2 linked regions of the Homo sapiens genome follow. The protein of the gene in region 1 purifies or fractionates together with the protein of each later gene. This does not show direct contact. Each region holds a gene or a part of one and is shown on either strand. Other genes may lie near its edges.

The links. Proteins that work in one complex are often made in the same cells at the same time.
Region 2: the proteins of PCDH8 (region 1) and SYNGAP1 purify together in Homo sapiens (co-immunoprecipitation; one large-scale study listed by IntAct). This does not show direct contact.

What each region holds. Positions count from the first base shown.
Region 1 is NC_000013.11:52,846,517-52,850,267, forward strand, and holds the start of PCDH8 (protocadherin-8 isoform 1 precursor), read right to left. Parts: upstream 2,125-3,751; 5' UTR 1,921-2,124; coding exon 1-1,920.
Region 2 is NC_000006.12:33,447,497-33,451,147, forward strand, and holds part of SYNGAP1 (ras/Rap GTPase-activating protein SynGAP), read left to right. Parts: intron 1-333; coding exon of another isoform or gene 334-346; coding exon 347-437; coding exon of another isoform or gene 438-440; intron 441-1,292; coding exon of another isoform or gene 1,293-1,307; exon of another isoform or gene 1,308-3,651. UniProt on the Homo sapiens protein: Major constituent of the PSD essential for postsynaptic signaling. Inhibitory regulator of the Ras-cAMP pathway.

The sequences.
Region 1 (3,751 bases):
ATCCCGGGCCTGCACACGGGCCACAACCGTGTCCTTTGCGGTGCGCCCAGGCACCGCCACTTCTAGGGAGCCATTGGCTGGCGCCGGGTGCACCAGGACTGGCGCATGGTCGTTCTGGTCCAGCACGCGCACTTGCACTAGGGCGCTGCTGGAAAGCTGAGGGGAGCCGCCGTCGCTAGCTTGGATGCGAACGTCGAGTTGGCGCAGCGTCTCATAGTCGAAGCTGCGCAGCGCGTAGATGGCTCCGGTAGCTGGGTCCACCGAGACATAAGTGGACACGGCGCCCCCGGCGCGGCCCACCTCGGCCTCCAGCAGCCGGTAGGTGACCTGGCCGTTGCGGCCCAGGTCCCGGTCGCGGGCGGCCACCGTGGCCAGGTAGGCGCCTGGCGGGTTGTTCTCGCGCACCGACACCTCATAGACCGGCCGCGTGAAGAGCGGCGCGTTGTCGTTCTCGTCGCCCACACGCACCGTGTAGGGCCGCACTGTGCGCAGCGGGGGCGCGCCGCGATCCTCGGCCACCAGCGTCAAGTTGTACTCGGCGATGCGTTCGCGGTCCAGCGACGCCGCGGTCACCACCAGGTAGCTGCCCGCGTAGGCCGGCTGCAGCCGGAAGTGCTCGTGCCCATAGAGGGCGCAGCGCACTTGCCCGTTGGCGCCCGAGTCCCTGTCCGAGGTGCTGACCAGGGCCACCAGGCTCTCGCGCGCCGCCCCCTCCGGCACCAGCGAAGTGGCACCAGCCTCCGGCGTCCCGGCTCCCGCCGGCGAGCTAGCGTCCGCTCCCCCGAGTGCAGCGGCGGCGGCGGCAGCGGCGAAGGGTGAGGTTGCCGGCGCGCCTGGGGCGGCCAGCGGGGTGATGGCGATGTCGGGTGCGTTGTCATTGACGTCTCGGATGCGCACGATGACCTTGCAGGTGGCAGCGCGGGGCCCGGGTCCGCGGTCCTGCGCCCGCACGTCCAGCTCGTAGGTGTCCTGACGCTCGTAGTCCACGGGCCCGGCCAGGGTGAGGCGGCCTGATCGCGGGTCAAGCCGAAAGAGGCGGCGCGCCTCCGGCGGGGTGCGGGCGCCAAATGCGAACACCACGTCGCCGTTAGGTCCCTCGTCGGGGTCGGCTGCGTCCAGGTCGAGAAGCAGGGAGCCCACGGGCGCGTCTTCCGCCAGCTCCACTTCGGCCACGGCGCCCTGCGGGAAGGCCGGGCTGTGGTCATTCGCATCCAGGACGCGCACGCTGAGGGCAGCCGTGGCGGAGCGCGGCGGGCGGCCGCCGTCCTGGGCCACCAGCTCCAGGCTGTAGGCGGCCTGGCTCTCGCGGTCCAGCTCCTGCAGCAGCACCAGGTCTGCGCACTGAGCGCCGTCCGCTCGCGTCTGCAGCTCCACGCGAAAGGGGCTGTGCGGCTCGGCCAGGCGCACGGTCTGCAGCCCGTTGGCGCCCACGTCCTCGTCCACCGGCACCTCCAAGGGGATGCGCGTGCCCACTGCCGCACCCTCGGACACCTCTACCGGGATCTGGGCCCTGGGGAAGCGCGGCGCGTGGTCGTTGACGTCCCTCACCTCTACCTCCACGTGCACCAGCCGGAACTGCTCCTGCGAGAAGCTGACCACATCGAAGGCCAGCACGCACTGCGGGGCCTGGCCACACAGCCGCTCGCGGTCCAGGCCGGCGTCCCCGACGGTCAGCTGCCCGTCGCCTTCGCGCACCCGGAGCAGAGAGCTGTTGAATTGCTTCATCAGGCGGAAGCTTGTGTCACCCGATACTTTCATATGCAGGTCCTCGGCCAGGGTCCCGATGACCGTGCCGGGGGCATCCTCCTCGAAGGTGCTGTATCGGACTGTTTTGCTCTGGGCCACTGAGAGCACCCAGCAGAGGCTGAAGAGCTGCAAGGGGAAAAGGCAGGGGCTGCCCCAACGCCTCACAGGACTCATGCCTCCAGCCTCAAGTGCGATCCGAAAGGCTAAGGAAGTCTTCTCTGGTTTCCAGGTCGGGCGTCAGTCTCAGGCTCTCGGAATCACGCTCTTTGCGAGCCCTGTGCGGGAGAAGTCTGCGGGTAGCAGCTCCGAGCCTCCAGCGGGCTCTGAGGACGCGCGGACCCGCCCTCACTCTGCGCCTCTCCGTCTCTTACAGAAGCTGCGCCGCCTCGCGCCGCCTTTGCCTTTATAGCCGCCGATATGCTAATCACCCGAGCCGGGTAGCCAATGGCCGCCTCCCCCTCGCGTCGCCCCTCCGCCTGCCTCTGACAATCCCTTTAATGTGGAAAGGCTTAGAGGGGAAAACAAGAAAGGAAAATTAGGGAATCTTTCTTTTGTTTAACTCCTTTTGCTTTTTCCCCCTTTTCTTGTCAGCACCCTGCATGTAGAGGAGTTGGCACAGGGCTCCAGGAGTAAAAGGAGCGGATGGTTTTGTTAATTGTCGCCTGCCTCCCTCCGTGCCGCGGCTAGAACTAAGTGCGAACACGCTGGGGTTTCACCCCAGTGGCTCCTGATTCCGCCTTCCCCCAGCCCCTGCCAACACACACACTCTGCATTTTGCACCTCTGACGCTTCCAAACCCTTGCAGCCCCCTACCCACAGACTTGCTCTGCTGAATGAGGCTCTGCTTTCCTTCTCTCCTAGCTACGGTGCCTGGAATAGCCTCTCGATTAAGAAGCCTGAAGGATAAGGGAAAATTGATTTTATTCAAATTTGTGTACTCAATTGTGTTTTGCTCGTGTGAGCCCCAGTGATCAGAGCTGCCACTTCCCTTTCAGAAAAGAGCCCCGCGATATGTTAGTATGCACGTCACTGTCCAAGTGGCCTTCTTAAGCCCTGGGAGCTAGCAGGCAAGGAAAAAAAAGTTCCAAATAGGATTTAGCATAAGCTTGAGGAGATTTGGAAAGGTTTCAAAGATCAGACTGTATCAAAGGCTTATGAAGCCCTCGTTAGCAGTGGAAATAGAATGGTGTGGCAGGCGATCCCATTGGAGGCCCCAATGTCTGTATTATTTCACTGTGACAAGCTAAGGGGAGAGAAAGTTGAACAGTTTCCACAGCGGAGTTGGACTAACTTGAATATAATGAGCAAACGCCACATGTATCCATTATGTTCCTCTATTCATCCCCAATCACTGCCATAACTCTCCGGCTAAACGGTGATGGGCGCTGAATTCCACACAATACCCGGCTCGTATTAAAGTGCATTTAGAGAACTTTTTCCTCCTGATGCCTTGTTCCGCCTATTTAGAGGATTTTCTTTCTGTTCTAATAGGGCCACTCTGGGAAGCAACACTCGTCCGGTTCCAGAAGAACAAAATCACAGCGTGACGTTGAAACCTGGCAGGAACGTGGGGGGAACTTAACCATCTGCTTAGGAAAGTGTGGAGCTTCGGCACTGCCAAAATCTGGGCTGGGCGGATCCTGGGGCTGGCCGGGCGCTGCGCTGCCCCACAGATAGCCCCCTCCCATCCCTGACGGCCAGGGAGATGGAGCTCGGATCTGCAACAAGACGGATTCTTAATGATTCTTACTGAAGGGCTTTATTGAGCAGGCTATGCAAATACACACGAAGGAGGAAAGGTAAAAAACAAAAGCCACTCACTGGAAGAAATTTTTCTTTTTAGGCGATAGGTTTGGTAAGTAGATTGAATTCAGTAAACATTCTTCAGAATCCCGATTTTGGTCCTGCTGTCAGCGTCCTATCCATGTTTTCCTTTCCCTCAAACTCGAGGGAGTGTGTTTTGGGTTTTTTTTCAGAAGAGGGTCAGGAGTTTCCTTGGAGTAGG
Region 2 (3,651 bases), on another chromosome or scaffold:
CTTCACAGTGAGGTGACATGGGGGATGCAGAAGCCAGGTCCTCAGCCATGGAAGGTCTGGGGAAGGGGCACTGCTGTCCTGATTGGGACGATGGAGGCCTGGAGGTGTCTGGATGGTAGAAGTCTTTGAGGCACAGAAAGCTGCCTTAGCAGGGAGGTGTAAGGGTTCCTGGGAGGAAGGTGGAGAGCATGATCCTGAGGAACAGGGAGTCTTGCATCACGGCAATGGAGGGACTCTGATTCTAAGGGATAAGGATGCCTGAGGTTTTTCCAGAGAGCTATGGGGTTCCATGGGCAGGCTCTGAGCCTGTGCCCGCCACTAACCCCACTGAAGCCCGTCCCTTCAGGCTGATGCTGGTGGAGGAGGAGCTGCGCCGGGACCACCCCGCCATGGCTGAGCCGCTGCCAGAACCCAAGAAGAGGCTGCTCGACGCTCAGGTGGAAATTACAATGTCATTTATCTTCTCCGTGTCCCATCCCCATCCATCCCACTGTCTTTCGTGCACTCACTACACCAGCCACCTAGCCCCATCACCATCTGTCTCTCATAGTCTGCTGTTTGTCCACTGGCTGCTCCTGGCAGCCCCCTAGTGACCCCATCTTCATCCCATCGTCTGTGCCTTTGTCACTCCTGGCAGCGTCAGCCCAACTCCTGTGCCTTCCCATCCAGTCTTCCCACTCCTCTCTGCATCTCAGGACCTTCTCTACCAGAACCTTGGTCTTTCTGCCCCTAGACCCCACCTAGTTCCAAGAACCCCTGCCCCTTCTTTGCTCACTCCTATTCAAGCCACGTTGTTCAGCTTCCTCTGCGCTCTTGGGCCAGAGGGCTAGAAGCTGCCGTTTTCTGGAATAGAGCACAGGGCAGTATGATCTGTAGTTTCTCCAGGCCCTGGCCGGTACCCTGAAAACTTGGGGACCCATCACCTCTGTTCTCTTGGCTCCCTAATTTTCCTGTCTCCTTGGCAGCTCCTGCATAGCTTCCTCTTCCTGACTCTTCAGATCTTGAAGGCCTTCCATCCTGTAACCTCCCTTTGCCCTCAGTATTTAAGTCCAGCCTCCCTCTGGCCTCCCTCCCACTCTGGCCCTCAGACCTTCCCAGCTGCCTGCTGCCCAGCCTCTCTTCTCACAAGCCAGCTTCTAGGACCTCCCTTCTGCACCCTTACCCCTTGCTTTCCCAAAATTCTGCTCATTTTCCTACCCATACTCCTCTTTGCTCTGACTGCTAGGCTCCCCCCGCCTGCCATCCCCCCACCAAGGCTCCTGACCCCATGACCCCACTCTCTCCCACTGCAGCTCCTCATCAGGTAATTCTCCTGGTTCCGCTTTGGCCACGGGCGGAGGACACAGGGGGAGGTGACTCCGGACCACTGCAGGTTGGTCGTGAAGCCCACTCCCTCCAACACCTCCGGAGCCTCTCCCCTCTCACTGCTGCCCTCCACACCCAGAGAACCTCCACAGACTCCAGCCCTCCGACACCTGCACAGATCCATCTCCCAAGACACCACCCAAAGAGAGCATTTGCTGCTGCTTCCCAGAACTGTCCAACAATACCTTAGCAACACCAAGAGTTGGGCCCTAGATGGGCCCAGCACATTCACAGGTCACACCCACTTCCCTGCAAAACCCACCCCCTCCCAGCCTCCTCCTGACTCTAAGCCCTCCTCTTCCTCTACCTCTCCAGTGTATGTCTGTCACCCCCCATTTCACCAGAGCGTCCTTAGGGGCTGGGGGTGGGTTTGTTAATGGGGTGGAGGCAATGATGGGTTGGAGGATCTTGGCTATAGGGGCTGTGCTGACTGCAGCAGGTAGGTTGGGTTTCCCTCTTCCTTCCCTAATCTTGGTTCTCTACCCTCCTTTCCACTCCTCACCTGATTCTCTCTCTTCCTCCTCCTTATATCTGTGAGGCAGAAGGCATCTGAAGCTCATATTAGCCCCCATTGGGTGGGAATTAGGAGTGGGTAGTTAACTCAGGGAGACTTGAGATACCCTGGAAAAAATGCTATTGAGATGTCCTGACATTAGGCAGGGTGGATGGAACAAGAAGGAGCAAGAAAGGAACCTCAGGCAGATGTTAGGACATGGACTTGATCATGTGGCCTGGGAGTTTAGAAATGGGGAGAGACATCCTCCTAGATCAGATCGTGGGCTCAGTAGGCATGTTGATTCCCAGGGAGAGGTGCCAGGAACAGCATGGTAAAGAATGTACTCTTCACAGCTCACATCCCCAGGTTGCTGATGCCACTCACTCCCCCTCTCCTGCCATCGAGTGGCCTTGCCGGACACATCACCCTACCTAAAAAGCCAGTAAATGAGAACCTGTCAGCTATAGCCATCATTTCTGAGATGCGATTTTCTTTGGGATTGAGCTGCAGTGGGCAGTGGCTCCTTACACTGTAATTTTAATTCTCTGCCTGCCCAGCCTCTCTGTCAAAGTAGCTGGTGATCTATAAAGATGCTAAAAGGCACCAGGGGACTTTGCCATTTAAAGGACTCCTGCAGTGAATTCTTTTGTAAAATGAATAATGGCACCCTAATTTATCCACTTTCTAAATTTGGGTCCATGGGGGTGTCCAGGGCATGCTTATGTGCTGTCACCAGCAGACAAACAGAGGGAATGGAATCTGGGGGTTCCTTCCCTGCTCTCCCGCCATACTCAGGATACCCTACCATAAGTGATTTCCTCTCACTGACTTGCAGAAAATGTGTGAGATACCCAGCAAGCTAAGAAGGCAGTTTTGCTGGGTATCTCATACCCAAGGCTGGGGTTTGGGTGATCTGAGAGGTTAGCTCCTTGATCCTAGGATGGAAGGGAGAGCTTATATAGAAGCTTTTACTTGGAAGGTTTTGTATCCTAAGGTCAGACATAGCTATATTACCAAGCCTAAATGCCATGTGGCCCAGGAAATAATTTGGACATTTGTTCTAAACCACTTGTGGTAGGTATTGGTCTCTCTGCAACTCAGCCATTAATTAGAAATTAGTTTTGAGCCTGAATTTTAAAAAGCCAAGTGTTGCCCCCAGCCCACACACACACACACGGACATGTACAGTACAAACCCCAGATAATTACAACAGCCAAAGAGAGAAGGAAGTGAATTTCCCAACCAGAAGCGTAGGGAAATTCAGATGGCTTTCTTTTCTCCCAGCAGAGGAACAGAAGGCGGAGCTAAGGGCAGGAACCAGGAGTTGGTCAAGGAGCTATAGGAGGTGATGAGAGTAGAACCAGGGGTAGGAGCTGGTCTGGTACCCCTCACCCTCTAATTGGGAGCCCAGGGAGAAGGACTGAAAAGAAGATGGGAGTGGAAAAGAATAAAGCCAGTTTCTGCTTCCCAGGGATGCAGAGATTGGGGCATGCTGTGTCTGCAGAAGCTCCTAGTCATTTCCGCCATAATTGTGAGAGAGAGGGGCAGCCCTCCCACAAGATTTTTCCCTTCCCATATCACTTCCCTGAATCCCCTTCCTTTCCCCCCAGTACAGTTAAACCTCTCTCTAATTTGGAATGTTATATTTGAGAAGATGGCCACTGTGAATAAGTGACAAACGGAATGACAGTGTCTATTTAATGAAATGCATGTCTTCAAAATATATACAGAACTCGATGAACAAGGCTTTTTCCACTCCTCAGGGAGCATGCATTAATGAATAGATAGGA